Linked DNA regions of Homo sapiens: regions 1 and 2 are each linked to region 3. The links come from fine-mapping of genetic effects on gene expression. A gene starts in region 3. Each other region holds a variant in brackets. All regions are shown on one strand. Distances are from middle to middle. Region 1 has its middle 22 kb from the start of TMED10. Region 2 overlaps MLH3 (mutL homolog 3). Region 3 holds the start of EIF2B2 (eukaryotic translation initiation factor 2B subunit beta).

The links. PIP is the estimated chance that this variant, and not a neighbour inherited with it, causes the effect.
Region 1: its variant is the best candidate, but not a certain one, in a credible set for the expression of EIF2B2 in putamen (GTEx, PIP 0.55).
Region 2: its variant is the best candidate, but not a certain one, in a credible set for the expression of EIF2B2 in whole blood (INTERVAL, PIP 0.88).

What each region holds. Positions count from the first base shown.
Region 1 is chr14:75,193,482-75,204,186 of GRCh38, forward strand. It overlaps the pseudogene RNU4ATAC14P. Among named protein-coding and RNA genes, the nearest start is that of TMED10, 22 kb to the left of the region's middle. The variant T/C (reference allele first, on the strand shown) is at 6,473.
Region 2 is chr14:75,019,148-75,029,852 of GRCh38, forward strand. MLH3 (mutL homolog 3) reads right to left here. Exons shown (of 13, transcript NM_001040108.2): 10 at 3,848-3,871; 11 at 3,667-3,745. It also overlaps the pseudogene RNU6-689P. Among named protein-coding and RNA genes, the nearest start is that of EIF2B2, 22 kb to the left of the region's middle. The variant C/T (reference allele first, on the strand shown) is at 3,782.
Region 3 is chr14:74,996,507-75,007,211 of GRCh38, forward strand. EIF2B2 (eukaryotic translation initiation factor 2B subunit beta) reads left to right here and starts at 6,415. Exons shown (of 8, transcript NM_014239.4): 1 at 6,415-6,647; 2 at 6,769-6,889; 3 at 7,045-7,193; 4 at 8,231-8,394; 5 at 9,360-9,455; 6 at 10,071-10,208. The coding sequence starts at 6,485. RefSeq lists enhancers at 5,962-6,051, 6,093-6,773.

The DNA.
Region 1 (10,705 bases), 200 kb after region 3:
TGTAATCCCAGCACTTTGGGAGGCTGAGGTGGAGGATCACTTGAGCCCAGGAGTTGGAGACCAGCCTGGGCAACACAGAGAGACTCTATATCTGCAAAAAAAAAAAAAAAAAAAAAAAAAAAAAAAAAAATTAGCTAGGTGTGATGTTGCATTCCTGTGGTCTCAACTACTCAGGGGGCTGTGGTGGGGGATTGCCGAGGCTGGGATGTCAAGGCTGCAGTGAGCCATGATTTTGCCACTGCACTCCAGCCTGGGTGACAGAGTAAGACTCTGTCTCAAAAAGAGAGGGAAAGAAAAAAGACTTAATGTTGTTTTCCCTTTTTCCTTGTTGGGTCTTGGATTTACTTGGGACCAATTACACATTTCTTCTTAAATTTCTCCCTTTTGGAATGGGAACGTCTATCCTATGCCTACCCACTATTGTATTTTAGAAGTACATAAACTTGTTAATTTCACAGGCTCTCAACTGGAGAGGAATGTGCTTTGGGATGAATTATACCTTGAATCTCGCCCCTATCTAATTCAGATGAAACTTTGGACTTTTGAGTTGGTGCTAGAATGAGTTAAGACTTTTGGGACAATTGGGATGGAGTGAATGCATCTTGTATGTAAGAAGGACATGAGGTTTGTGTGGCCAGGGGTAGAATTCTATGGTTTGAATGTCCCCTCCAAAACTCATGTTGAAATGTAATTGCCACTACGATGACGGTGTTAAGAGATGGAATTGTTAAGAGGTGATTGGGCCATGAGAGCTCTGCCCTAATGAGTAGATTAATGTCATTATCATAGGAGTAAGACTGGTATTGTGAGAGTGGGTTGTTATAAAAATGAGTTTGGCCCTCTGTGTCTCTTGCTCTCACCCTCTCTTGCCATTCTGCCTTCCACCATGAGATGACGCAGCATGAAGACCCTTGCTAGAGGCTGGGGCCATGCTCTTGGACTTCCCAGCCTCCATAATTGTAAGTCAAATACATTTCTATTCATTATGAATTATCCAGTCTGTGGCGTTTTGTTATGGCAACACAAAATGGACAAAGACACAACCAAATCCAAGCTCTACTATCCATTAACTGCGTGACTTCAGGATAGTTACCTGGACTCTCTGCATCTCTGCTTCCTCATGTAAATGAAGATAATTATAGTGCCTACTTCATAAGTTTGTGGGGAGGATTAAATGAAATAAAGCATGTAAAGTGCTTAGAACAATGTCTTTTTTTTTTTTTTGAGACAGGGTATCGCTCTGTCATGCAGGCTGGAGTGCAGTGGTGTGATCATAGTTCACTGTAGACTTGACTTCCCAGGCTCAAGAGATCCTCAGCCTCCCAAGCAGCTGGGACTACAGGTGCACATCACCATACCTGGCTAATTTTTAGAGATTTTTGTAGAGACGAGGTCTCACTGTGTTGGCCAGGCAGGTCTCAAACTCCTGGGCTCAAGTGATTCTCCTGCTTCAGCCTCCCAAGTGCTGGCATTACAGTGCTGGAATAATTTCCACTCTTCCCAACTTCTTAGAACAGTATCTATCACATGGTATACACTTAGTAAATGTAAGCTGTCATGAAACAGAACAGGCTGGCAATGGCTTATTTTTAAAAAAACTATTGTTATTATTATCATTATTTTTGAGACAGAGTCTCACTCTGTCACCCACGCTGGAGTGCAGTGGTGTGATCTTGGCTCACTGCAAACTCTGCCTCCTGGGTTCAAGCCATTCTCCTGCCCCAGCCTCCCAAGTAGCTGGGACTACAGGTGTGTGCCTCCATACCTGGCTAATTTTTCTATTTTTCGTAGAGATGAGGTTTCACTGTATTGGCCAGGCTGGTCTCAAACTCTTGACCTCATGATCCACCCACCTCAGCCTCCCAAAGTGCTGGGATTATAGGCATTTATTATTATTATAGGTGGCTATTATTATTAATATTATTATTAACTATATTTCTGGATCCCTCTCTTCCAGGAACATATGCTGATCTTTCCACCATCATTAATTATTATTAATGTTGTTTGGACCTTTTTTTCTTCCAGGCCCTGCGCCAAACTCAGGTCAAGCTTTATCTCATTTCATCCTTATAACAAGGGTATAAGTCATGTAATATTATTATCTCCCATTTCATTTATAGGGAAATTGAGGGTCAGACAGGTTAAGTAACTTGCTCGAAGTCCTATAGCCAGTGAAGGGCAAGGCAGGGACGTGAAATATCAGCTTGGGCCCCAACTTTATGGCTATTCTGCATTTCTACTTGACCCCGAAGACATTCCCCCTGTGGTCATCAGGCCCACCATCCCCTTGAACCAACTCCCTAAACCTCCCATCACATAGCTTCCTTACATCAAGTTCCATCTTTTCTGGGCGGGGCGTGGTGGCTCGCGCCTATAATCCCAGCACTTTGGGAGGCCGAGGCAGGCAGATCACTTGAGGCAGGCAGGTCAGGAGTTCAAGACCAGCCTGGGCAACATGGTGAAACTCCTTCTCTACTATAAATACAAAAATTAGCTGAGTGTGGTGGTGTGCACCTGTGGTGCCAGCTACTGCGGAGGCTGAGGTGGGAGAATCGCTTGAACCCAGGAGGTGGAGGTTGCAGTGAGCTGGGATCACACCACTGCACTCCAGCCTGGGTGACAGAGCGAGATGCCATCTCAAAAAAAAAAAAAAGTTTTATCTGATCCCTTCAAACTATGCCTTTCTGTTGCATTCTTGGTCTGGGCCTTCCGAGAAAATGTCCTTTTCTCAGAGGTGATGAATCAGGCCACATTCCTCCTCCACCTTCCTGAGAAGCTCTCTCAAATGCTACCTCTGTTCCCAGGGTCTCCCAAACCCAAATGCCGCCTGGCCCAGCATCCCCATTCAGAGTCCTCTCCTCACACACAGCCACTCTGGCTGGCTTCCCCCACAGCCCCCAGGTGACCCTGTGTCCATTGAGAGGCTGCCTCCCTCTCACTCCCCTGTGTCTCTGTTGCTCCTTCTAGTGGAAGAACCTGAAGGTCTTGATGCCGGGGAGCTGGCAATCAGTCAACCCTCAGGATGTCCCTCCTATCCTCCACTATATCCAGGGTCTCTTGGGCACCACAGTTCTTCCCTTAGCCCTGTTAGGGCAGGCGTCTCGCACTGCCCCCCTCTGCTGCCCACCTCCCACTCTCACCACTGGCCCAGGGCATGGGGTGTACCATCAGGCACATAGGCCTTATCACTGTGCAAACACTTCCTCTTTCCCCAGTGCTGGTTCTCACACAATTGGTAATCAGTGTAAACTTCCTCTGACAATTTACTGAGCAAACATTTACCATACAACTGCCCTATGTAGGGCTCTGTGCTAAGGCCCATGGGGAACCCAAGCCTGGTCTCCACCTTGGGGCATCTCGAGTCTGGTAGAGATGAGGCACATGAGGCGTCTCAGATGCCGCGGGTCTTGCGGACCAGAGCACCGCGGACTGGAATCCCATTTCTGCTCTCTACTCCCTGTCTTACCTTGGAGCAAGTGACATCCTTTCTGATCTTGAATTTCCTTAGCTGTGAAATGGGAGTAATGCTGTCTAGGTTTGTTGTGAGGACTAACTAAGATCCCTAGAGGGCCTGGCAGAGCACCTGAGATAAGGACATTCCACAGTCCCTGTGGTGCCACCTTTCAGATATGAATTGAGGGGTCCCTATATACTACAGGGTCAGCCAATCATCTAGTCAACAAGAACACATTCAAAACGGAAGTGTTGGGTAAGTGGGGAACACACATGAACATAACACACATACACATAAGGGTATAAACATAACCCTTTAGTTTAGCGGGAGTGGGTGGTGGTAGGAGTTAGTGTTTTTTTAATTAAAAAAAAATTTTATAGGAATGAGGTCTCACTGTGTTGCCCAGGCTGGTCTCAAATTCCTGGACTCAAGCAATCCTCCCACCTTGGCCTCCCAAAGTGCTAGGAGGGGGTTAGTTTTAATATACCCATATGCAACAGCAAGAGATTATTATGGGATAAGTCTGTTTCCTAGGTAAATGCTTATCCTGTGGGCACAGCCTGTGAAGGAGATATCTCTGTAGGCCTGCGGGAGTTGGGAAATTTCTCAGTGTTGAGGAGTCAGCACACAAAATCAGAGGAACGCAGGCAAAGCAGTCATCAGCATATCAAGGCACAGGGGAGTGATGGCTTCCCTTCTTCACTCCTACATCAAAACAGGCAACCTAAATGGACCTTTTTTTTTTTTTTTTTTTTTTTTTAATGTGGTGACGGAGTCTTGCCCTGTCGCCCAGGCTGGAGTGCAGTGGCGTGATCTTGGCTCACTGCAACCTCTGCCTCCCAGGCTCAAGCAATTCTCCTGCCTCAGCCTCCCAAGTAGTCAGGACTACAGGCACACACCACCACGTCTGGCTAATTTTTGTATTTTTAGTAGAGACGGGGTTTCACCATGTTGGCCAGACTGGTCTCGAATTCCTGACCTCAGGTGATCCGCCCGCCTCGGCCTCCCAAAATGCTGGAATTATAGGCGTCAGCCACTGCGCCCTGCTAATGGACAACCTTTAAACCTACATGTTTGGCTATTTCTTAGTATTTTAGGGTTGCTTCGTGCTCTGGCCTGGGTTTGCAGGAAAAATGGGAGAGAAGAGGAGAAAAGGGCTGGAAGAGGCTTGGCCATGGTAGAAGGCATGGGTGGGTGTGAGGAGAAGGAAACAGAGTGATGGGCCAGCAAGGAGTCACAGGGTTTCGGGATCTGGGCTAGCGACCCTCCTGGCCTCCAATGGGCTAACACGGAAAAGAGGGATGCTGATACTCCTGGTGTTGGAGGAAGATTCTGGGGAAAGACACCAAGAGGAAGCACAGGGCAGCTACAGATGCATCCATGGACCGAGCATGAGCTTTGGTGTGAAGCCAACCTCGGTTTCCATGGGGCCTCAGCACTGACTAACTGTGTGACCTTGGTCAAGTTACTTTACCTCTTTGAACCTCAGTTCCCTAATCTCCAAGTGAGAATAACAACATCTGTTTCATAGCTCTTTTGCGAGGACTGTAAATTGTATAGCACAGAGCCTGCCAGAATGTAGGCGACCAAGTTCCCTTCCCCCTTCTCAAGCTTCCAGGAGTGCCCCAGAAATACAAGACTGGCTATATTTAGTGTCTGGCTCCCTCCCCCGACAACCCATGGTTAAATTAGAATGAAACTATTTATGCTAAAGTCTCTGAAGTTCTAAAATTCTCTGGCAATGTGAGTAGACTGGGTGGGAGAAGACAGCAGTTCACCTCCTGGGGACATGGCGGCTGCTGCTGTGAGGCTGTACTCTCTGAGCAGCACACGCCAGTCTTCCTGGGTACCAGCCTGGCAGACGGCCAGGCAGCGGGGCAGACGGCATGCCCAGAAGCCTGGCAGCTCCTCCCTTCCCCATTCATGTTCCCTGAGTCCGGGTTCCCTCAGTCCCCTTGGCCAAGGTTTGCCTTGGGTGATGGTAGGGGTGGAAGGAAAGGCTGGCCCCACAGGAGTGTGTGTGCAGGGAAGGTACCCCAGAGGCCGATTTCAGCCCATTCTAGGAAAGGATGTTGTAGTAACAAATGTTTCATGCTGGAAAGGTGTCTGAGGCAGCAGCCAGAGCTTGGGCCCTGAAGAATTTACCCAGATACTATGGTTTTCCACCTGGACGCCCATAAAATATCCCAAGAGTTTTGTAAAGATACTGTTAGCCTGGTCCCCATCTACAAGATTCTGATTCCATTGGTTCACAGTGGCTGGAATTTTGTTAACAGTGCCCTAGGTGCCTGCATTGTGCAGAGGTGGATGAGGACCAGTGTTCCCAAGGCATTCCCATGTCTCTGGACCAGAGCTCCTTCTATCTCCAAGTGTCTGCATGTCTGGTATGAAGTATGTGTTGTAATCACTTGAACTTGCTTCCATCCTGGCCCCTTGCCATTTACCCTTTGAAACACAGCAACCAGAATGAGGCCTTTAAACATAAACCGGCTGGGCATGGTGGCTCATGCCTGTAATCCCAGCACTTTGGGAGGCTGAGTCGGGCAGATCACTTGAGCCCAGGAGTTTGAGACCAGCCTGGCCAACATGATGAAACCCCATCTCTACTAAAAATACAAAAATTACACATGTGGTCCCAGCTACTCAGGAGGCTGAGATGGGAGAATCGCTTGAACCTGGGACGCAGAGGTTGCAGTAAGCCAAGATCGTGCCACTGCATTCCAGCCTGGGTGACAGAGCGAGACTCCAACTCAAACAAAACAAAACAAAACAAAACATAAATCAGATCCCATCCCTTTCCCACTTCAGTATCTCCAGTATGTCCCATTTCAATCCCAACTCCTCACCAGGGGCAGTAGGACGCTCTGGGATCTGGCTCTTCCCCTACCTTCCTCTCAGCCCTGACACCACTAGAATCTTCCTTTTTTGTTGTTGTTGTTGATTCGGGGTTTTGTTCTTGTCGTTCAGCCTGCAGTGCAGTGGCACGATCTCGGCTCACTGCAACCTCCACCTCCCAGG[T/C]TCAAGCAATCCTCCTGCTTCAGCCTCCCGAGTAGCTGGGATTACAGGCGCCTGCCACCACACCTGGCTAATGTTTTTTTGTTTGTTTGTTTGTTTTGTTTTGTTTTTGAGACACAGTCTCGCTCTGTTGCCCAGGCTGGAGTGCAGTGGTGCGATCTCCGCTCACTGTAAGCTCTGCCTTCCCGGTTCACGCCATTCTCCTGCCTCAACCTCCCAAGTAGCTGGGACTACAGGCACGCATCACCACATCTGGCTAATTTTTGTATTTTTAGTAGAGATGGGGTTTCACCACATTGGCCAGGCTGGTCTCGAACTCCTGACCTCGTGATCCACCCACCTCTGCCTCCCAAAGTGCTGGGATTACAGGTGTGAGCCACTGCACCCGGCAGATTTTTATATTTTTTAGTGAGATGGGGTTTCACCATGTTGGCCAGGCTGGTCTTGAACTCCTGACCTCAGGTGATCCACCTGCCTTGGCTTCCCAAAGTGCTGGGATTATAGATGTGAGTCACCGCACCCGGCCACCACTAGCACCTTCCTGTTCCTCACACTCACCAAGCTGGTCCTGCCCTAGAGCCTTTGCACTTGCTGTGCCCTGTGGTTGGTGCTCTTCCCCAGCCTAGTTCATGGCTGGCTCCTCCTCATCCTACAGGTCTCAGAGGTCCCCTCTTCAGAGAGCTTTCCCTCACCTGCCTAGTCCACGTGGCACTCCTTTCCCTTCCTGTCCCTCCCTATCATTATCACCTACAATACTCCCCACTAGGAAGCAAGTTCCATGAGAACAGGGAACTTGTCTAACTGGTTTGTCACAGTGCCTGGCACGGATGAATTCTTAATAACTAGTTGTTGAACAAATAAGTGGAAATGGACATAGCATGCTTATGTATTAAATTATGTGTTTTCATGTACACAGACATATAGGTATACCTGCAGATAATGTGATCAGAGGTCTGGGGTAGAAATGGACAGATGGTGCCAGAGAAGAGGGCACCAAAGGAGAAGGGAAAGGAATAATGATTGAGCCTCGACTCAGTGCCAGGCACTATTCTAGAGTTTTTTATACATTTAATCTTCACAACAACACATTGGGCACTGTAAACAAAATTCCAAGGATTCAAGCCACCATGGACCAAAGGAATCAGAATCTTGAGGATGGGGCCAGCATTATTGTCCTCATTCTATAGATTAAAAAAACTGAGACTTAGAGAGAGGAAATAACTTGCCCGAAGTTAATCTACCAACAAGTGCCAGAGCAGGATATAAACCCGAGTTTATTGGACTCCAACACAGTCTTGCTCATTGCATCATTCTTGAAGGAGAAATTACCTCACTCATTACCTCTCTCCATTATCAGGGAATAAAAAAACTCTGGTGAATGCGGCCCCAGATAGCAATGGCTAATTGGTGACTGGAGCTAATAACATTGGCCGAGCGAGCAGGGCAGATAAGGAAGGGAAAGAAAATCCACTAATAGCCTTGCCATCTATCTGGAAACAACCTTGTTTCTTAATTTTATTTGTGTTGTTACGAATTTGCACTCCTTTCCTTTTGCAGAATGTATACATATATTCCACTTGATTTAAATTCCCAGGATACAACAACCCAGAGGGATTTGGCCTCATTAAGAGTCAGTGGGCTAGTTTGTTTGGGCCCTCTATCTTAAACTTCCAAATCTAATTTCCAACCAAAGGAATAGGATATGCTCTTTTTAAAGTTATTTATTTATTTTTTTTTTGAGACGAAGTCTTGCTCTGTTGTCCAGGCTGGAATGCAGTGGCGTGATCTTGGCTCACTGCAACCTCTGCCTCCCAGGTTTAAGTGATTGTCTCACCTCAGCCTCCCAAGTAACTGGAATTACAGGCATGCACCACCACATCTGGCTAGTTTATATATTTTTAGTAGAGATGGGGTTTCACCATGTTGGCCAGGCTGGCCTCAAACTCCTGACCTCAGGAGTTCCATCCACCTCGGCCTCCCAAAGTGCTGGGATTACAGGTGTGATCCACCGTGCCTGGCCTAGAATATACTCTTTAGAATACTCTTTTTAAAATACCTCCAGAACTTAGTTTATATCCAGGTTGTCTGTAATCCTAGTCTCTGGAAAGTACTTCTGTTTTTTATGTTTATTTTTGCTTTTTTTTTTTTGGTATGTGTTAGCAGTACTGCCCTCACTATGCGCTCGTTGGACAGTAGCACAAACCCAAGAAAAGAATGATGATTTGGCAGTCATTTCTAAATAGCAGAACACCTTTTCTTATTTTAGAATATGTAGGGCCAGGCATGGGGCCTCACACCTATAATCCCAGCACTTTGGGAGGCTGAAGTGGGAGGATTGCTTGAGCCCAGGAGTTCAAGACCAGCCTGGGCAAGATGGCAAGACTACGCATCTCTACAATAAATAAATAAATACATAAATAAAATATCAGAGCTAGTTCTCAATTAAATCTGATCAAAACATAGCATGCCATCTAGCACAGGACCTCAAGGCCTTATAGACATGAGTTATATATCCTCCTTGCTTATAAAATGCAGACTGTCTAATTGCTGGCTCACAGAAGATCACATAGGGGCTTAAAGCTTAGTTAGGGCAGAGCCGTCATGTGAGACATAAACAGAATGGGGAGAATCTGTAATATAGGGTGAGAACTTTGTAAGCTTCATGCTATGGACAATGGAGAAGTATATCAGGGCTCTGCAGTTTCAGGAGATAAGAACGAATTCTGAGTTAACAGGAAAAAAAAAGCCATCTGAAGGAAGGATATTGGGGAGTTTATAGAATTGAAGGAAAATCTGACCAGGCAAGAGGGGATCTCCTGGGGATTAACTCATGATTCAACTTCAAACTTCCCATCCCTGAATCTCTGTTCAAAATTCAAATGCCCAGGTGAGTCTGAATGGCTTAGCTTAGGTCATGTGCCCCCTTCATGGGACCTGGGATTGGCTGACCTCCAGAATTCTGCACAACAGAGAAAAGGAGACAAATTCCAAAGGAACAGATGCTGGCCAGACAGACGAGACATGTCTGCTCTAGTAGCCACTGGACATTGCTTTCTCTTTTTCCTTTGTTTTTCTTTTTTTTCTTTTTTAAATGGAGTTTTTTTTTTTTTTTTTGAGACGGAGTCTCGCTCTGTCACCCAGGCTGGAGTGCAGTGGCGTGATCTCGGCTCACTGCAAGCTCCACCTCCCAGGTTCACACCATTCTCCTGCCTCAGCCTCCCAAGTAGCTGGGACTACAGGTGCCCGCCACCACGCCCGGCTAATTTTTTCATATTTTTAGTAGAGACGGGGTTTCACCATGTTAGCCAGGATGATCTCGATCTCCTGATCTCGTGATCCGCCCGCCTTGGCCTCCCAAAGTGCTGGGATTACAGGTGTGAGCCACCGCGCCCGGCCAAAAAAAAAAAAGAAAAAAAAAGAGAGGGCCAGCCGTGGTGGCTCATGCCTGTAATCCCAGCATTTTGGGAGGCTGAGGGGGGCAGATCACTTGAGGTCAAGAGTTCGAAACCAGCTGGGCCAACATGGTGAAACCCCGTCTCTACTAAAAATACAAAAATTAGCTGGGCCTGGTAGCACGTGCCTGCAGTCCTAGCTACTTGGGAAGCTGAGACAGGAGAATCACTTGAACCTGGGAGGTGGAAGTCACAGTGAGCTGAGACCACGTCATTGCACTCCAGTCTGGGTGACAAGAGCAAAACTCCGTCTAAAAAAAAAAAAGAAAGAAAGAGAGAGAGAGAGACAGAGACAGAGAGAGGCAGGAGATGTGTTAGAAAGCTATTAGATGTCAACCATTGTGGAAGGAATGAACCAGGCTGGGCTGGCGGAGAATGGAACGAAGTAACCAGATATGAGGCACAAGGGCTCAAAAAGTAGTTTGTAAACTCGATTGAGCCATCTGGGGCAGTTGGGACCCCAGGAGTTCATCTCCAGCCTACACCAGAATCCTCTCTGGGAAGTGACTGGGAATCTACAATTTTAAAACACACAGCCATCCTCCATAGAAGACACTGGTCTGTGTAGATGGGCATTTGGAAACCATTGATCTATTAGACCGTTTTTTCTAAATGTCCTCTAGTCCAGTGTCTCATCTTATCTCTTTGCTCTTGCAGTTAAGCATTATCAAAGCTTAGCTTTTGAGTACTTGCAATTTGTACTCATTACATTTAGAGTCATATATCTGCAAGATCTCTTCTGAGGTCTTTGGAATGAAAACAAGGACAGAGAGGTATGTTGGCT
Region 2 (10,705 bases), 23 kb after region 3:
ACACCTGTAATCCCAGCACTTTGGGAGGCTGAGGCGGGCAGATCATGAGGTCAGGAGTTCAAGACCAGCCTGGCCAATATGGTGAAATCCCGCCTCTACTAAAAATACAAAAATTAGCCGGGTGTGGTGGCACGCGCCTATAGTCCCAGCTACTTGGGAGGCTGAGGCAGAAGAATCACTTGAACCCAGGAGGCGGGGGTTGCAGTGAGCCGAGATCACGCCACTGCACTCCAGCCTGGGCAACAAAGCGAGACTCCGTTCTCAAAAAAAAAAAAAAAAAAAAAAAAAGAGGGAAATAAATTAGTGCTTATGACCATGGATGAAACTAAGGCTTCAGGACTGACCTTCTGTCTCTCAGCTTTTTCTTACGGAGTATTTGTATTTCTAATCTCTGTAGGAGGCATTCCTTAACTTGTTAGGATCTGGCTTTCAGAGTTTTTCTCCAAGAGGCAAGAGCAGTATTTTTGCCTACTCTTTATGGGTTTGTGAAGTTGGGGTTATCTTTCTCCATGGATCGTCCAATAGCAATCTCTGATTGTTTCCTTACAATGTTCATTTTATTTGCTTCTTTTTTTCTAATTTCCATAATAATCTTCCTAATCTAAACTCTCATATTGTTATAACCTGCCTTTATGCACAATTTACCCAGTCAACAAATATTTATTAAGTATATACTTTGTATTGGGAGCTTTGTCAGGCAGTTAGTGAGACAGATAATTTCCATCCTCATGGCGCTTATGGTCTAATAGGGGAGACAAACATGAAGCAGATAATTATACAATAATTTAAATGATAAATATAGGTGCTATAAAATACAGGATATGAATATATAATAGGAAGACCAAACCCAGTTTAGGAGCTTAAGGAAGGCTTTCCTGGCAAAGTAGTATTCAAGCTGAGACTTTAGGTTAAGAAAGACGTGGCTAATTGAAGAAGGAGAGAAAAGTGTTTCAGGTAGAGGAGAAGGCCAGTGCAGAGGCCCCGACGCTGACAAATGTTTAGCACACAGGAAGCAGAAGACCAAAAAAGCAGGCTGGGATGTAAAGAACAAGGTGGAGAGTGATATGACGTGACACTGGAGAGGCAGGCAGGGGCCAAATCACGAAGACCCTTGTGGGCCACAGTAAAAAATCACATTTCTATCCCAAGAGCAATGGGTCATCATTGACACATTTTAGTTAGAAGAACAACATGCTTGGAGGGATGTTTCAAAAAGATTCCTCTGGGTGCTGAGAGAAGAGCAGCTTGAAAGGGAGCCAGAGTGGATGTGAAGAACTAAGTAAGAGAGCTCAACAGTGGCAAAAATGAGGGAGGAGCCAGACAGACTGAATCAGACGGACCGAAGATACATTTTGAAGGTGGCAATGATGACATTTGGTGATAGAGGAGTATGAGTCTGTTCTCACACTGCCATGAAGAAATGACCAAGACTCGGTCATTTATAAAGGAAAGACCATTTAAATGACTCACAGTTCTGCATGGCTGGGGAGGCCTCAGAAAACTTACAATTATGGCGGAAGGTGAAGGAGAAGCAGGCACCTTCCTCACAGGGCCTCACCCAGCTCCCCATTTTCTATATTGTATCATATTACCCTGCTCAAGAACCCTCAATGGTGTTCGCTTTGGCAGCACATATAATAAAATTGGAGTGATACGGAGAAGATTAGCATGGTCCGTGCACAAGGATGACATGCAAATTCATGAAGCATTCCATCTTCATTATTATTATTATTATTATTATTATTTTGAGATGGAGTCTCACTCTGTCACCCAGGCTGGAGTGCAGTGGCGTGATATTGGCTCACTGCAACCTCTACCTCCTGGTTTCAAGTGATTCTCCTGCCTCAGCCTCCTGAGTAGCTGGGATTACAGGTGCCCGCCACCACGCCTGGCTAATTTTTATGTTTTTAGTAGAGATGGGGTTTCACCATGTTGGCCAGGCTGGTCTCGAACTCCTGACCTCAGGTGATCCATCCGCCTTGGTCTCCCAAAGTGCTGGGATTACAGGCGTAAGCAACCGCGCCTGGGCGCATTCCATCTTTTTACAAAAACCCTAGAAGAAAACCTCAGAAATACCATTCTGGACGTAGGCCTTGGCAAAGATTTCCTGGTAAAGACTCTAAAAGCAACTGCAATAAAACGAAAATTGACAAGTGAGACTTAATTAAACTAAAGAGCTTCTCCACAGCAAAAGAAACTATCAACAGAATAGACGGACAACTTACAGAATGGGAGAAAATATTTGCAAACTGCATCCAACAGAGGTCTAATATCCAGAATCTATATAAGGAACTAATATCCAGAATCTATAAGGAACTTAAATAAATTAACAAGCAAAAACCAAAAAACCCTATTAAAAAATGGGCAAAGGACATGAACACACACTTCTCAAAAGAAGACATACACATGGCCAACAAGCATATAAAAAATGTTCAATGTCACTAATCATTAGAGAAATGCAAATCAAAATCACAGTGACATACCATCTCACACCAGTCAGAATGGCTGGTATTAAAAAGTTAAAAAATAACAGATGCTGGTGAGGCTGCAAAGAAAACAGAACACTTATACACTGCTGGTGGGAAATATAAATTAGTTCAGCCACTGTGGAAAACAGTTTAGAGATTTCTTAAAGAACTTAAAGCAAAACTACCATTCAACCCAGTAATCCTATTACTGGGAATATGCCCAAAGAAACAGAAATCATTCTACCATAAAGACACATGCATGTGTTATGCTCACTGCAGCACTATTTACAATAGCAAAGACATGGAATCAACCTCAATGCTCATCAATGGTGGATTGGATAAAGAAAATGTGGTACATATACATCATGGAATACTATGTCGCCATAAAAAAGAACGAGATCACATCCTTTGCAAAAACATAGAGCTAGAGGCCATCATCCTAAGTGAATTAGAAAACCAAATACTGCATGTTCTTACTTAAAAGTGGGAGCCAAACATTGAATACACATAGAAACAAAGAAGGGGTAACAGACACCTGGGCCTACTTGAGGGTGGAGGGTGGGAGGTGGGTGAGGATCAGAACTACCTATTGGGTACTATGCTCATTACCTGGGTGACAAAATAATCTGTACACCAAACCCCTGCGACATGCAACTCACCCATGTTACAAAGTGCACATGTACCCCCTGAACCTAAAATGAAAGTTGGAAAGATAAAAAAAGAACGCTTGCTAATTCTAATGCCTTCTGTATCAAATCCAAAGGTTTTGCTGTGACCTTCTAGGTTTCTGTTCTCTTACCTGCCTAGTTTCTTGATACTCTTTGCTGCTTCTCATATAACTAACTTGTTTCTGTTCTGCCTCTCTGCACAGGCTGTTTACTCTCCCTATAGTGAATTCCCCTTTCCATGCTATGAACCCATGTTCCCCAGCTCATTCAAAATTCATCTCAAAATGCATCTCCTCTAGGAGTTATTCCTCCACTCATATAGGTCAGGCAGCACTATAGTCAAATTTTTGTGTTGGGATTTTGTTTTTGTAAAAGTGATTTTTAAAAGGGTATATTCAGTTTCTTGATCTAAATTGTATTCTCCAAGAGTCAAGTAGTAAATGTACCCTCTGCCTCTTTTGTAATCCCGGCAGCCCTGCCAGGGCTCTGCATGCAGAGGTGTTTGATCACTGCTATGTTGAAGGGCTTACCATGGCAGGCTTGGGATGCCAACACCTTCTGGACAGTCAGTGGCAATGTCCCTTGGATGCCTCCGGTGGTCTGGAGTAGCTAATGCATAAACACGTTATTAACAGGAAAAGAAAA[C/T]GGAACAACGAAGCCTTTTATGTGTGGTGCTTCTGTGTGAAACCCCAAAATAAAGGAAAAGCTTACCTCCAGTTGTTCTCGGATAAATTCCTGCAAAGCAAAAGGAAAATCGGCTTTAATCTACGGTTATGTTTTACTTGCCCTTTGATAGTTTACAAAATATCTCAATTTTCTTCTTTAAATCATGCCTCCTGAAAGAAAGAGTTCCAGCAATACAGCACTTGGGTACAAATTTATTTGTTGTAAGGCACTTTGAATATGAAAAAACCAAGCAACTGAATAGAACTCTTATTGAACACAGAATATATTTAGCTACTGAGACTTCCTCCAGAGATAGCTTCTCAACTAATGAGGTTATGTAGCTGGTGAGAGTAGCCTTGATGATTCAACCAATTCAAAACATCAGGAAGGCTTCTCACTAAAAGGCTGTCTGTTTGTGTGTGTAATCTTAGCCAGAACAAGCGTAATATTACACACAAACTGAGAATAAATACACAACAACCATCAACACAACCACTGCTCAGTATAACACTTGCTTAAATATCATAAACATAAGTAAACAGTCACTTTAGTTCCCACGGGCTTTTTGGGGACAATTCCCTTCAGGTCAGAAAGTTTATTTTCTGAGGCCCTTTGTTGAGAAATTTCTCCTCCCTTGCATGTCTCTGTCCCTGGGGTAACCTTTTCAATAGTTATATCCCTGTGGATATTAATATTTACAAAAGAAGCTTAAAGAAATTTAAAGCAGACACTATTTCATGCTACCAATTTGTTTAACCTCTGGAGGTAAAAAGAAAAAAACCTGTTGCACATTTAATGATTTCTTTATAAGAAAATCATTTCTTTACTCCTGGAAAAGGCTATGTGTAAATCTGCTCCTAAGATTACAACATGGTACCTTTTCTTTTAAAACCAGACTCAGGAAATTCTCTTCCCTCCTTCATCTATACTCTAGTCTGCCATGCCTATAAATGGGCACAGTTATCAAGAGCTAGGTAGTAGATACTATATTACATATAATTTAAAAATCACATGTTTTCCCAAACAAACCTAAACAGAAAGATGGTCTCATAAGACTCAATCCACTGACAAAGCTTAGTGTGGATGGAGAGCAAACATTCTTGTGTTTGTACATCTGGGATGGTAAAACATCTGTTTGTAAGCTTAGTGAAGGGGTGATGGGTCTCATCTCAGTCCATTTTATATTCCAATGGTCTGTTTAATGCTGGATAATTTAATATTTTTATTTTATTTTTTATTTATTTATTTAGTTAGTTAGTTACTTATTTTGAGATGGAGTTTCACTCTTGTTGCCCAGGCTGGAGTGCAATGGCACGATCTTGGCTCACCGCAACCTCTGCCTTCTGGGTTCAAGCGATTCTCCTGCCTCAGCCTCCTGAGTAGCTGGGATTACAATCATGCACCACCACGCCTGGCTAATTTTGTATCTTTAGTAGAGACAGGGTTTCTCCATGTTGGTCAGGCTGGTCTCGAACTCCCGACCTCAGATGATCCGCCTGCCTCGGCCTCCCAAAGTGCTGGGATTACAGTTGTGAGCCACTGCACCTGGCCGTATTTATTTATTATTTTTAATTTTTTGAGACGTAGTCTCGTTGTTGCCCAGGCTGGAGTGCCATGGCGCGATCTCAGCTCACTGCAGCCTCCACCTCCTCACCAGGCTAGAAGATAGAGCTTTATAGAAGGATGTATTAATGATCTTTCAACTGCTAGGATTCAAATAGCTACCTCCTCAAAACACCAAAACTGTTCCAGCTTCTTCCAGAATCACACAAAGTCTCTCCTGATCAGCCTGACATAGGATAATCAAGATTTTATGAAACCAGAGGTTTGTTTCCATTTGAAGCAAACTCCTTAACAGTAGTCTTTTAAGTTCCTTCAGGAAAAGTTTTTCTTATAATTTTCTGGTTACATATTAGGGATTGAATTACAATAAAAGACTCTAACAGATCCTATCTTTTGGATTTAGGACAATTTGGAGCAGGGGTCTTAGAGAAAGCATGTCTGTGGGGAGGAAAGAGCTTTGCTGGAAGCAGAGCAAATCTTTGGATCTGTCTGATCCAAAGGCGATTCTGGAAAGGGCAAAGCCAAGATGACCCAAGAGCTGACTGACAGCTGCTCTTCCTCTTGAATGTTTCCCCCTTGGCCTGCAAACCTGCTTACGTCTTTTTTGTCTTAAAGCAAACAAACACCTTTCCTCAGCCTTGAATCCCACCCCACACTTCCCAACCACTTCTAACCTTTAGCTCTCACCCCATCTCTCTTCTTCTGTGTGTAGCCAAAGTTCCTGAAAGAGTTGTCTACTTAGCTTCACTTCCTCCTGCTTCACGCACTCCTGACTCACTGCACTCTTATCTTCTGCCCCACCTCATCCCCAGGAAATGATTCCACAAGACAACTAATGTCCTCATGACAGTCAAGTCCAGCGTTTCAGGCTCTACTTCATAGCCGTTATTGACCATTCCCTCCTTGCTTAAAACTTTCCTTAGTTTTGGCAATATTGCTTTTTCCTGGTTTTCCTCCTCCCTCTCTAACCAAGTATTTTCAGCCATCCTTAGAATTTCCTCTTTTCAGCAGAGCTTTCCAGACCTTTTCCAAAGCATACGCACCCTGGATGCTGATGTTCCACAGGCTCCACTCTTTTGTCTCTTCCTTTTCACTCTCCATATTCTCCCTGGACAACCTCACTTCCTCAAGGCCCTTCTCCAGCTTCTGATACTATCAATATATATATACTGTTAACTCTCAGATAGATATGTACAGCCCAGATTTATTTTCCAAGTACCAGATCTTTTAAGTGTGCCTATCCACTGGGCATTCCACCTGCAGGCACATTCACTGTGTCTAAACCCACCTTCACGATGGAACTCCTAGGCAGGTTTGTTCCTCCTCATCTGTGTCCCTTCTCTGTCAATGGCACCACCATCCTTCCAGCCATCCATGCTACAACCCTCAGAATCACTGTTGCTTTTGTTTTCTCCTTTATTCCTTTCACGTTTGATTGCTCACCAAGTCCTCTTGCTTCTGCCTCCCAAATTCTGTCTCAGATATGTCACTCCTCTCTACTCCCTCTGCTACTGACTCAGTCCAATCCTCATCTTCTCTTACCTTAACCACTGCAATAACCCGTCAGCTGCTCTCCCTGACTCAAATCTTCCCACATAAATCCATCCCCCAATTTATCTACTACATCTATCCTCTAATTTTAGATTTTACTATTTTAGATATTACTAAAGCACTTCAGACTTCTAGATGAGGTGGGTGTGGATTTGCCTGTGCTCCAAATCAAGAAAGCTACTGATAAAGGAGAAGGAACAATCATGAAAAAAGCAGGACACCATAAAAAAGGAAGAGTGAGATTTGGGGAAAAAAACACAACTTCTGGAAATAAAAAATATAGCCATTGAAATAAAAAATTTAGTCACTGAAATAAAAAACTCAGTGGATAAGCTAAACACATAATTAAACAGAAGATGAAGAGATACTTTAGTTCACTGGAAGATAAGTGAGGAGATTTCACAGAATGTATCACAGAGAGAAAGCAATGGGAAATATGGAAGAGAGTTGAAGAGGCATGCAGAGTAGAAAGATAAGGCCCAGTAGATATCTGACAAAATTTCCAAGAGACAAGAGAGAGAATGGGAAAGAAACGTTTGAGGTGATAATGACTGCATACTTTCCAAACTGAAGAAGCATAGTGAATCTCCAGAAGGAAATGAAAATAAATCCATACAAAGATACATCATAGGGAAATTGCAGAACACCAAAGACAAAGTGAACCATCGTAAAAGCAACCAGAGGGAAAATCAGATTACCTACAGAGTAATAATTGGATTGACTAAGGACTTCAATGGCTAAAACAGAAAGTCAGGCTGGGTGCAGTGGCTCACACCTGTAATCCCAGCACTTTGGGAGGCCACGGCAGGCAGATCACCTGAGGTCAGGAGTTTGAGACCAGCCTGGCCAACATGGTGAAACCCCATCTCTGCTAAAGATACAAAAATTAGCTGGGTGTGGTGGTGGGCACCTGTAATCCCAGCTACTTTGTAGGCTTAGGCAGGAGAATCGCTTGAACCTGGGAGGCGGAGGTTGCAGTGAGCTGAGATCATCCCATTGCACTCCAGCCTGGGTAACAGAGTGAGACTCTGTCTCAAAAAATGAAATAAAATAAAATAAAATAGAAAGTCAAAAGTAGTGAAATATTTTCAAAATGCGGGGGGGATAACTGGCAATGTGAAATTCTGTTTTTAGCTAGATAATCATGCAAGTATGAAGACAAAATAAAGATACTTTAAAAGACAGCTTATCATTCACGGACTTTTTTTTTTTTGAGACAGAGTTTCACTCTTGTCACCCAGGCTGGGGTGCAATGGCGTGATCTCAGCTCATTGCAACTTCCGCCTCCCGGGTTCAAGTGATTCTCCTGCCTCAGCCTCCCGAGTAGCTGGAATTACAAGTACCTGCCACCATGCCCAGCTAATTTTTGTATTTTTGGTAGAGACAGGGTTTCACCACGTTGGCCAGGCTGGTCTCAAAACTCCTGACCTCAGGTGATCTGCCCGCCTTGGCCTCCCAAAGTGCTGGGATTACAGGCATGAGCCACCATGCCTGGCCCACGGACTCTTACTAAAATAACTTCTATTTATTTTTATATTTTTGTATTTTTTGTCTCAAGATCTGTTTGTGGATAAAAGATCTTGTAAGAGATTTACTTCAGTAAAAAAAAAAAAAAAAAAAAAAAAAAAAAACCCAAAAGAACACAGAATAAGTAGGATGCAAGAGGCAATGGTGAACAAAGACTCTGGTGAACACTTTTTTTAATCTAAATAAAGATTGACTATAAAATAAATGACCACCAGGGAATTAAAAACAAGGTGGAATTAAAGTACTAGACAGCAACATGGAAGATGGGAGGAGGGTGATGGGAGATGAACAGTTTGTAAGATTTTGGTACAGTTAGGAAGAGGATAGAGAAGTGAATTACTTTTAAACTTTGATAAGTATGCATGCTAAAAGTTAAGGCTAATCTCTAAAAGGATATAAATGGAATATATAACTTCTAAACGAGTAGAGCAAAAAAAAAAAGAGAAATACAGAAAACTATAATAGAAAACAGGAAAGGAGAGGAAAAAGACAATAAAGACAAAATAAATGATATTTGCTATAAAAAAAGAAACATATAAGTAATCAAAATAAAAAGTAATAGTTCTCTCTAATACCTCCAATGCCACAGCCCAGCAGTAGCTTTCCAAACCTTTACCAAAACATATATGTAAAGTAATCATATTTGGAATGCAATCTAAAATGGACCTTACTCTCCTGCTTAAAAGTTTTCACTGGCTGCCTATAGGATAAAATGCAAACTACTTAGTAGAATATGCTAAATTATTTTATGATTTGACCTTGACAACCCATCTAGCCAACTCCCATCCAGTCAAAGATCCAAGTATAACTTCTGATTTCCCCCCAATTTTTTTTTTTTTTTTTTTGAGACGGAGTCTTACTGTGTCACTCAGGCTGGAGTGCAGTGCAGTGATCTTGGATCACTGCAACCTCCACCTTCCGGGTTCAAGCAATTCTCATGCCTCAGCCTCCCAAGTAGCTGGGATTACAGGCACATACCATCATGCCTGGCTAATTTTTTAATTTTTAGTAGAGACGGGGTCTCATCATGTTGGCCAGGCTGGTCTTGAACTCCAGACCTCAAATGATCCGCCCGCCTTGGCCTCCCAAAATGCTGGGATTACAGGCGTGAGCCACTGCACCTGGCCTGATTTCCCCAAATCTTAACTACCAATAGCCTAACGTTGATCAGAAGCATTACCAATAATATAAACAGTTGATTAACACATATTTTGTGTGTTGTATATATTACACACTGTATTCTTACAATTAAGTAAGCTAGAGAAAAGAAAATGTTGGCCAGGCGTAGTGGCTCATGCCTGTAATCCCAGCACTTTGGGAGGCCAAGGCAGGTGGATCATTTGAGGTCAGGAGTTCAATACCAGCTTGGCCAACATGGTGAGACCCCATCTCTACTAAAAATACAAAAATTAGCCGGGGCATGGTGGTGTGCGCCTGTAATCCCAGCTACTTGGGAGGCTGAGGTAGGAGAATCGCTTTAACCCGGGAGGTGGAGGTTGCAGTGAGCTGAGATTGTGCCATTGCACTCCAGCCTGGGCATCGCAAAAAAAAAAAAAAAAGAAAGAAAGAAAGAAAGAAAGAAAAAGAAAATGTTAAGAAAATCATAAGAAACAGAAAATATATTTATTATTCATTAAGTGGAAATGAATCATCATAAAGGTCTTCACCCTCATCATTTTCACATTGAATAGGCTAAGGAGGAGGAAGAAGAGGAAAGGTTGGTCTTGCTGTCTCAGGAATGGCAGAGGTGAAAGAAAATCTGCATTTAAGTGTACCTGCGCAGTTCAGACCCAAGTTATCCAAGGATCAACTGTAGATCTTAATTTGAGCCATATCTATTGATAGTTCCCTAAACATAGGATGTATCTCAAGTCTCTGATATGTATTCCTCTGTCTAGAATGCCCTTCTCCCCTCTTCTGTACTCAGCACTTTCCCACTATTCTTTTTTTCTTTTTTTTTTTGAGACAGAGTTTCACTCTTGTTGCCCAGGCTGGAGTACAATGGTGCAATCTTGGCTCAATGCAACCTCCGCCTCCCAGGTTCAAGCCATTCTCCTGCCTCAGCCTCCTGAGTAGCTGGGATTATAGGCATGCACCACCACGCCCGGCTAATTTTCTATTTTTAGTAGAGATGGGGTTTTTCCATGCTTGTCAGGCTGGTCTCGAACTCCCGACCTCAGGTGAACCACCCACCACGGCCTCCCAAAGTGCTGGCATTACAGGTGTGAGCCACCTTGCCCAGCCTAGTTTCCCACTATTCTG
Region 3 (10,705 bases):
TCTTCAAATTGATTAATAGATTTAAAGCAATTCCAACCAAAATATCAATAAAGTTTTTAATTTAAATACGTTTCAGCAATGCTGTTTCTAAAATATATATGGAAGTGGCTGAGCCACTAGCCCATGCCTGTAATCCAAGTATTTTGGGAGGCTGAGACAGGATCACTTGAGGCCAGGAGTTCAAGACCAGCCCAGAAACATAGTGAAACCTTGTCTCTACAAAAAATAAAAAAATTCGCTGGGCATGGTGGCACACACCTAGAGTCCCAGCTACATGGGAGGCTGAGGCAGGAGGATTGCTTGAGCCCAGGAGGTCAAGGCTGTAGTGAGCCAAGATTGCACCATTGCATTCCAGCTTGAGCAACAGAATGAGACCCTGTCACTAGAAAATAAAATAAAATATTGGCCAGGCATGGTGGCTCACGCCTGTAATTCCAGCACTTTGGGAGGCTGGAGTGGATGGATCATACTGCGATTTTGCCATTGCACTCCAGCCTGGGCAAGAGAGTGAGACTCCATCTCAAAAAATAATAATAATAAAAAATAGGCCAGGTGCAGTGGCTCACACCTGTAATCCCAGCACTTTGGGAGGCCAAGGAGGGCAGATCATGAGGTCAGGAGATGAAGACCATCCTGGCCAACATGGTGAAACCCCATCTCTACTAAAAATACAAAAATTAGCTGGGTGCGGTGGCACATGCCTGTAATCCCAGCTACTCGGGAGGCTGAGGCAGGAGAATTGCTTGAACCAGGGAGTCGGAGGCTGCAGTGAGCCAAGATCACGCCACTGCACTCCAGCCTGGCGACAGATCAAGACTCTGTCTCAAAAAATAAATAAATAAATACAATAATAATAATAAAATAAAATATAAAATAAAAATGCAAAGGCTCAAAACTAGTTAAGTAATTTTTAAAGAAAAGAATTAAGCAAGAAAAAATTTCTTACCAGAGATAAAAACTTTTCAATAAAACAATAGTTGCTGGGTGCAGTGGCTCATGCCTATAATCCCAGCATTTTGGGAGGCCAAGGGGGGTGGATAGCTTGATCCCAGAAGTTCAAGACCAGCCTGGGCAACCTGGCAAAACCTAATCTCTACAAAAAATACAAAAGGCTTGTGTCTGTAAATCCCAATTACTGGGGAGGCTGAGGTGGGAGGATCAATCACCTGAGCCTGGGAGGTCAAGGCTTCAGTGAGCTGTGATGGCGCCACTGCACTCCAGCCTGGGCAATAGAGTGAGGCCCTATCTTAAAAAAAAAAAAAAAAAAGACAATTGTTAAGATAATATCATATTGATTCAGAAATAGGCAAATTCAGCAATGAAACCAAATAGCCACCAAACAGACTCACATATTATAGAAACTTGACATATGACAGTGGTGACATTAAAAATCACTGGAGAAAGAATGGAAAAATAAAATTGGATTCACACCTCTCACCTTACATAAAAAGCAATTCCAAATTATATGTAATTCCAATTCCAATTATATGTAAAGATAAATGTTTTAGTAATCAGAAGAAAATATAGGAGATTATATTTATAATTGTGGATTAGGGAAGAATGTCTTCTGTTTTTTTGTTTGTTTGTTTGTTTGTTTTCAGACAAGGACTCACTCTGCCACTCAGGCTGGAGAGCAGTAGTATGATCACGGCTCACTTCAGCCTTGACTTCCCAGGCTCAAGAGATCCTCCCACTTCAGCATCCCAAGTAGCTGGGACCAGAGGTGTGAGCCACCATTCCTGGCTAATTAAAAAAAAATTTTTTTTTGTAGAGACAAGGTCTTGCTCTGTTACCCAGGTTGGTCTCAAGCTTTGGAGCTCAAGTGATCTTCCCACCTTGGCCTCCCAAAGTATTGGGATTACAGGCGTGAGCCACTGCACCTGGATGGATTTTTAAATTTTTTTATTTTTTTGAGTTGAAGTCTCACTCTGTTGCTTAGGCTGGATTGCAGTGGTGCTATCACAGCTCACTGCAAATTCAAACTCCTAGGCTCAAGCAAACCTCTCACCTCTGCCTCCCAAGTAGCTGGCACTACAGGCACATAGTAGCTGCCACTGTACTTGGCTAATTTAAAAAATTTCTTGTAGAGATGGCATCATGCTATTTTTCCCAGACTTGTCTAGAACTCCTCGCTTCAAGTGATCCTCCTACCTTGGCCTCCCAAATTGTTGGGATTATAGGTATGTAATCCCAACACCTGGCAAATCCACTGCACTTGGCTGAATTTCTGAAATAAGACAGAAAAGGCATTATGTAAAAAAGACAAGGTTGATACATTTTAACACATTAAAATCAAGAATTCTGTTCAAAGACATCTCAAAGTAAAGAAGACAAGCCATAATTGGGAGAAGACACTTATTTATATAATAAATAATTGAAAGAAGATTAGTATCTAGAATATAAAAAGAACTCTTACAAATCTACTTGGAAAAATTTTTAAGCCAAAAACAGTAGGTAAAAGGCACAACAAACAATTCACAAAAAACTCATGGCCAACAAACACATGAAAATATGAACAGTAATCAGGAAAATGCAAATTAAGACCACAGTAAAATATACTTTTATACCTACCTGATTCCCAAATAATAAGATGTTTGGTAATAACACATGTCAGTAAGGATGTAGGTCAGCTGAAAGTCTTTAAATATTGCTGGAGGGAGCATACATTAATTGAACCACTTTGTACTACTAGATCTATTTGTAAAGTTGAACATTCGTATAGCCTCTGATCTAGCTGTTCCACTTATATAAGTGCCAAGACATACACAGGACTATTTATAGTTTATGTTCACCCACCCCCCTAAAAAGATTGGAAACAACCCAAATATCTGTTGAAAAAAATGAATACATAAATTATGCTACAGTCACATGAAATATTAGTGCAAATAAGAGAACTACAAGTTCTTACCAGTACAAATTCACCAGTGCAAATAAGAGAATAACAAGTACATGTAACAACATGGATAAATTTTATGAATGTCATATTGAGCAGAAAAAAGTGAAATATACCACATATTTCCTAAATTGTAAAATAACACGGAACATAAATTTTACCATCTTAACCTTTTTAAGTGTACAGTTTAGTGAAACTAAACTGGCATGAAGTACATTCACATTGTTGTGAAATATAAATGCACAACCAGGCCGGGTGCAGTGGCTCACGCCTGTAATCCCAGCACTTTGGGAGGCCGAGGCAGGCGGATCACGAGGTCAGATAGAGACCATCCTGGCTAACATGGTGAAACCCCGTCTCTACTAAAAATACAAAAAAATTAGCCGGGCGTGGTGGCAGGCACCTGTAGTCCCAGCTACTGGGGAGGCTGAGGCAGGAGAATGGCGTGAACCTGGGAGGCGGAGCTTGCAGTGAGCTGAGATCGTGCCACTGCACTCCAGCCTGGGTGACAGAGTGAGACCCTGTCTCAAAAAATAAATAAATAAATAAATAAATAAATGCACAACCATTATCCACCATCTATCTCTAGAACTCTTCTCAACTTGCAAAACTAAAACTCTGTAGCCATTAAACAGCAACTCTCTCCCTCCCCTCAGACCCTGGCAATCACAGTTCTACTTTCTTTCTTTCCTTTATCTTTTTTGAGACAGGGTCTTGCCCTGCTGCCCAAGCTGGGGTGCAGTGGCAGGATCATAGCTCACTGCAGGATCATACATAGCTCACTGCAGCCTCGACCTCCCAGGCTCAAGAGATCCTCCCCCCTCAGCCTCCCAAGTAGTTGGGACTACAGACATGCATTACCACACCTAGCTAATTTTTAAATTTTTTGTACAGCTGGGGGTCTTGATATGTTGCCAGGGCTGGTTTCAACTCTTGGGCTCAAGCCATCCTCCCACCTTGTCCTCCCAAAGTGCTGGGATTCGGGTGTGAGCTACTGTGCCTGGCCAACACAGCTTTGCTTTCTATCTCTATTAATTCGAATATTTTAGTTTCAAAGTGAGGGATTGGTTCACATTCCTCAACCTGTTTGTCGTCATGCTTTATAACTTGCATACACACACATATAAATTCTTTAGTATATATAAAATACTATATACCTTGTTTTTTTTGTTGCTGTTGTTGTTGTTTGTTTTTGAGACACAGTCTTGCTCTGTCACCCAGGCTGGAGTGCAGTGACACAATCTCAGCTCACTGCAACCTCCACCTCCCAGGTTCAAGCTATTCTCCTGCCTCAGCCTCCCTAGTAGCTGGGACTACAGACATATGCCACCACCCCCCACTAATTTTTGTATTTTCAGTAGAGACAGGGTTTACCCACGTTGGCCAGGCTGGTCCCAAACTCCTGACTTTCAGGTGATCTGCCCACCTTGGCCTCCCCAAGTGCTGGGATTACAGGCATGAGCCACTATGCCTGGCCTATATACCTTATTTTCTTAATGACTTGATATATGAAAAAATAACGACAATATCCAAAATTGGCTATAATATGGTAAATGCTAGCCAGCATGTAAATTGATACAATTTTAAAGACATTTAAAAATTAACACACAATTAGCCAGGCATGGTGGTGTGTGCCTGTAGTCCCAGCTACTCAAAAGGCTGAGGTGGGAGGATTATTTGAGCCAGGGGAGGTTGAGGCTGCAGTGAGCAGTGAGCATGCCACTGCACTCCAGCCTGGGCAACAGTGTGAGACCCTGTCTCAAAATAAACAAACAAATCAATAAATAAAAACTAAAACACAGCAAAATTGACACATATTTTATGGCTTTTTAGAGCAACTGTATTTTCAACTTCAATTTCTGATGCTCATTGCTAATACATAGAAATATAGTTTTTGTATCCTTGCTAAACTTATGTTCTAGGAGGTTTTGTTTTTGTTGCTGTTGACTCTGGGATTTTCTGTGTACACTATCATGTCTTCTGTGAACAGGGACAGTTTCTTTCCATTCTGTATGCTTTTTCTTTTTCTTGCCTTATTGCAAGGGCTAGGACTTCACGTATAATTTAAATAGGAGTGGTGAAAGTAGACATCCTTGCCTTGTCCTGATCTTAGGGAGAAAGCAATCTTTTACTGTGAAGTATGATTTTTAGGTGTAGGATTTTGTAGATACCCTTTATCGAGTTCAGGAAGTTCCCTTTTGTTCTAGTTTTCTGAGAGTTTGTACCATGAATATTGAATTTTGTCAAATGTTTCTTCCTGCATCAATTGACATGATCATGTGGTTTTACTTCTCAGATTGTTAATATGGCATATTACATTGATTTTTAAGTGTTTAATCAGCTTTGCATTCCAGGTTTATGTTTCACTTTGTAATTACATATTATTCTTTTTTTATGTATTGCAGGATTTGATGTGCTAATAATTTGTTGCAATTTTTGCTTCTATGTTCATGAGAGATATTAATCTGTAATTTTCTTTTCTTTGTACTACCTTTGGCTAACTTTGGTATTGACATAATCTTTTTGGAGGGCAATTTGTTAATTGTAACAAAAGTCTAAAATGTGCTCGCCTATGGATTCCACTTTGAAGAATTTATCTTAAGGAAATAGAGATTTCTATTACACACATACTTTGGGTTCAGGTAGACCTGGATTTAAGTATGAACCCAATCCTTTATTAACTGCTTAAATTCTGTGGGTCTGTTTCCCAATCTGTAAAATGGGGATAAGAGGACCTATTTCAGACCTTATTAACTGAGACAATTCACACACAGTGCCCAAGAACCAGTAAGCTTTAAGTAAATGGTAACTCTTGGTATTATGTTATACTCTCTGGCCTCTCTGTAGGAGGACAATTCTGTCCAAATCAGAGGATGTCATCTTTGCTTCTGTATTGGCTCCCACTTTGAATCTCCTTAATCTTCCTCATCTCTAATTTCGCCGTCTTCTGTTAGACGTGTTAGGCCTTGAGAATACAAAAGCAACAAAAGATATCGTCCTTGTTTTCAGAGACATGAACCTCCTAGACACAGGCGCAAACGGTACCAAGCAATGTAACAGAACAAAAGTGAGACGTCTGCCCAAGGGGCAGCCGACCCTGGACATGCATTCAGAGCGTCAGTGTCAGCTGACACTCGGGAGTGACAGCTCGGGCAGTCACCGAGCTGGGAAGACAGGAGGGAGTGCCGCAACTTCTTCAGTGTAGCCTTAAGTCGCGGTGAGGGGCGCGTAGAGACTTGCTGCTCCCATAGCAACGGGACCAGCCACCCTCTACAGGCCTGACGGGTTACTTCCGTTCACCGTCGGCTGAGCCAAGAAAGGCCGCTTCCGATCCTCCAGCCCCCGAGGCGCGGGGGCGCGCGGACGCCCGGTTATAACTGAACAACCCGAGCCCCACGTCTCTGATTGGCTCAGGCAGAGGAAGGGGGCGGGAGATCGGCAACGAAGGGCGTAGCCGGCTTCCACTCAAACTTGAGGTTTCCCCCCATCCCCTCACAGCGGAAGCCGACCTCGCCCGCCCCGGAAGTGCAAACTGTGTGGTCTGGCAGGTGTGGATTCCGCCGGTGAAGGCTGAAGGCAGCTACCTTAAAGATGCCGGGATCCGCAGCGAAGGGCTCGGAGTTGTCAGAGAGGATCGAGAGCTTCGTGGAGACCCTGAAGCGGGGTGGTGGGCCGCGCAGCTCCGAGGAAATGGCTCGGGAGACCCTAGGGTTGCTGCGCCAGATCATCACGGACCACCGCTGGAGCAACGCGGGTGAGGCCGGCCTGCCTCCGCCGGCGAACCTGGCCCCTGTCTGTTCCCGATCCCAGGGCTGAAAATTTCCCAGGCCTCACTTCGCGTTGGCTCCTCTTATCCTCTCTCTTTTGGACTGTAGGGGAGCTGATGGAGCTGATCCGCAGAGAGGGCAGGAGGATGACGGCCGCTCAGCCCTCCGAGACCACCGTGGGCAACATGGTGCGGAGAGTGCTCAAGATTATCCGGGAGGAGTATGGCAGGTCAGGCTCACGTCCTGGGCTCCTGGTTGGATCCAGTGACACTTTTTGCACGGGCCCCTCTACCTGCTCGGAGACTTTATTGGAGCTGAACAGCCCTTGTTACCTGCCTGACCACTCCTCCCCACCTCTCTCTTTGGGTCTTGTTGCCTCTATAGACTCCATGGACGCAGCGACGAGAGTGATCAGCAGGAGTCCCTGCACAAACTGTTGACATCCGGAGGCCTAAACGAGGATTTCAGCTTCCATTATGCCCAACTCCAGTCCAACATCATTGAGGCGATTAATGAGCTGCTAGTGGAGCTGGGTAAGAGGCCTGATCGCTGGGAAAATGGGACTGGTCACAGGCACATAAGGGAACAGAAGCCTCTGAAGGTTGTTCATTAGCAGAGATGGGAGATTAGCTGTCTTCTGGTTCTCAGAGGTTTGTCCTCCTTCCTGATTAGGAAATGTTGCAACAGGTGACAGGACCAAAGTAATCCTCTCTACTTTTCCTTACAGACCAACCCTTGATAGACTACAGATCTGTGGAGTGGAACAGACTCTATTAGGACAGAGTTTTATTTTCATTGTAAAGAAACAAAATGAACTCCCTAGAGAGCCAAGGTCGATAGACCTCCTTCACTATCTGAATTTTTATACACACGTACACGTATACCATTTCTATCCCCCTTGTCATTGCGGTCCAAGTGACTTGCAGATATTCATTGTAATCAGAGGATGAAGAAGCTGCTTCCAAATTGCTCCCCCATTTTTTCTTCTCTGGCCAGTCTCTCTCATGTAGAAGTGTTGTGGCCACCTTTTGGAGGAAGACTTCTTTTAGGCCGAAGCTCTCTTTACCCTATTCTCAGCACTTTAGGATTTCCCAGATTGCCATTCCTTGGCTGAATCTACTGTCTTCAAAATCAGTTGTAAGGAGCTCTGTAGTGACAGAGGTGGTTCATAGGTAGGGGTACTTCTGGAAGAGGGCAGGCAGAAAATCCCAGAGGAGTGGGGCTTTTAAGAAATTGTGACATAGCTGGGCATGGTGGCTCACACCTGTAATCCCACAACTTTGGGAGGCCAAGGTGAGTGGATTGCTTGAGACCAGGAGTTCAAAACCAGCCTGGGCAACATAGTGGGACCCTGTCTCTATTAAAAAAAAAGAAATTGTGACATTTCACTTTAAGCACATTAACCCTGTGGTACCAGGGTCTGCTAGGTGGGCAGTGCATGTGAAGGGCAGACATCTTTTTCCGTATACGCGTAATGTGTGTTTGTGATATAGCAATTTCATATATATATATATATATATATATTTTTTTTTTTTTTTTTTTTTTTTTTTTTGCAAAACCGTTCTTACAGAAGGGACAATGGAGAACATTGCAGCCCAGGCTCTGGAGCACATTCACTCCAATGAGGTGATCATGACCATTGGCTTCTCCCGAACAGTAGAGGCCTTCCTCAAAGAGGCTGCCCGAAAGAGGAAATTCCATGTCATTGTAGCAGAGTGTGCTCCTTTCTGCCAGGTAAGGAGACTGCTGGAGTTGCTACTAAGAAAAATGAAAAATGAAGAAGAAATAAACGAGAGATGGGTAGGGCCATTCCAACCTTGAATTGATAAGCAAGACTTTGAGACACTGAGAAGATCAAGTAAAACATTAAGTGAATTTTCAAGGTGTTCGTCCTGTGAACATTCATAAATAGTGGTTTAAGAAAGTTGGGGCCGGGAGCGATGGCTCATGCCTGTAATCCCAGCACTTTGGGAGGCTGGGCGGGTGGATTACCTGAGGTCAGGAGTTCGAGAGCAGCCTGGCCAACATGACAAAACCCCGTCTCCACTAAAAATACAAAAATTAGCTGGGCGTGGTGGCACATGCCTGTAATCCCAGCTACTCTGGAGGGTGAGGCAGGAGAATTGCTTGAACCTGGAAGGCAGAGGTTGCAATGAGCCAAGATAGCGCCACTGCACTCCAGCCTGGACGACAGAGCAAGACTCTGTCTCAAAAAAAAAAAAAAAGATGGCGAGCTGCTGGGTTCAAGGAAAGATAACTTGATTCTTTTAGGAATCAAAGCAGGGTAAATTACCTTGGGGATGACTAATGCTTGGTCTGACCTCACTTGATCCTAAGTAAATAATAGGTCTCAAAAAGGAAATATGTAAGGATGCAGGTTGTTTTAAAATAATGAGCCAGGAGCTATCTTGTCAGCAATCGTGATTATATTATACATGCATGTTGTATTTCCAGTTTTATGGCTGCTCTGGTGCTGCTGTGGAGCATTAGACATTTATTAGCTTCCCCTGGGCTTCCCTACAGCTTACCAGAGCTATGAGAGTCTGAAAAATCAGTTGTCCGAAAAATGAGTTATCTATTGGAAATTATGTGCTGGATATGCCCATATCACACAATTCCCCAGATCCAGTTACATTTGAGAGCACTTTTCACTATTTCTCACTCTTTCTCTTAGAATCAGCCTTTCCCTCCCATTGCAGGGTCATGAAATGGCTGTGAATTTGTCCAAAGCAGGTATTGAGACAACTGTCATGACTGATGCTGCCATTTTTGCCGTTATGTCAAGAGTCAACAAGGTGGGTATATCTGGAGTTATGTTGAATTCATGAAGATTATGTTTCTAAAATATTGATTTTTATCTCCTCCTGTAATATCCACGGTGAGAGAATAAAGTTTCTAGCACCTTTCAAAGTACATACTTAGGCCTTTTTAATCTGTTAACTGAATTTCTTTTCCCTTTTTTCTGCATCATTGTTCCTCTCTTGGAGTAGCCTCTAAATTTGGTTGAAGCATTGAAAAGAATGAAGTATTAAATAGAACTAAGGCAAGAGTGTCAGTTTCTAGGGATTGGCTACAGGGCTCCTGCCTTATGCTCAAAGAGCTTGGCAGTTGTGGATAGTGAATGAAAAAGATTCCTGGCTTCTCAGAAGGTATGGCATCTCAATTTCCAGAAAATATGGGACTGAGAGCAGTAGGTTTTGCAGTTTCTTGTCCCATTTTACATTCATTCTTTCCTTGGAAACCTACTTTTAAGCTAGAACTTGTATTGAGCCAGGGATCCCTTCACCTCTACCAGTCTGTGACCCCTCACGATACCAATTCTGAGGTCTAAGCATTTAGCTTTTTGTGGCCAGTGGCCCTTTTAGGGCTCCACCCCCAGGATGGCTCACATTTTTTGTCTTGTCCCAAAGGTGATCATTGGCACGAAGACCATCCTGGCCAATGGGGCCCTGAGAGCTGTGACAGGAACTCACACTCTGGCACTGGCAGCAAAACACCATTCCACCCCACTCATCGTCTGTGCACCTATGTTCAAACTTTCTCCACAGGTAAGTGTGTCTGTCTCTAGCTAGAAGCCAGCAGAAAAGAAGGAAGCCAAAGGGTAGGCTTGAACTCTGGGACTTCAACCACCTCACTCCAGGGCCTCCATTTATCTGCATTTACTCAATGGATTACACCCAGTGGAGGCTGGAAAGAACCACAGAAGTCTTGATTCAGTAAAACAGTTGAGAGTTCTCAGCTGTCAACTTTAGGAAGTCAAGATTGTAAGGACAATATGTAGTTGGGAAAGGTCCTTTGCTTACGATTGCCACCACTCCCTGTCGCCTGACCATTTCTGAAAATGCCAAGCAGGTTGAAAGTAGGATCATAGAATCAGTTTTGTTATTGTTGCAGGGCCTGTCCTTTGTAACCTGAATACAAGCAAGGACTAAGTGAAGAGCCATTTCATCAGTGATAGAAGCTATTTGCTTTGAAAACATCAACCTATTTATAGGTCTCTATTTTTTAAATTGAGGTGAAATTCACATAACATACAATTAACCAT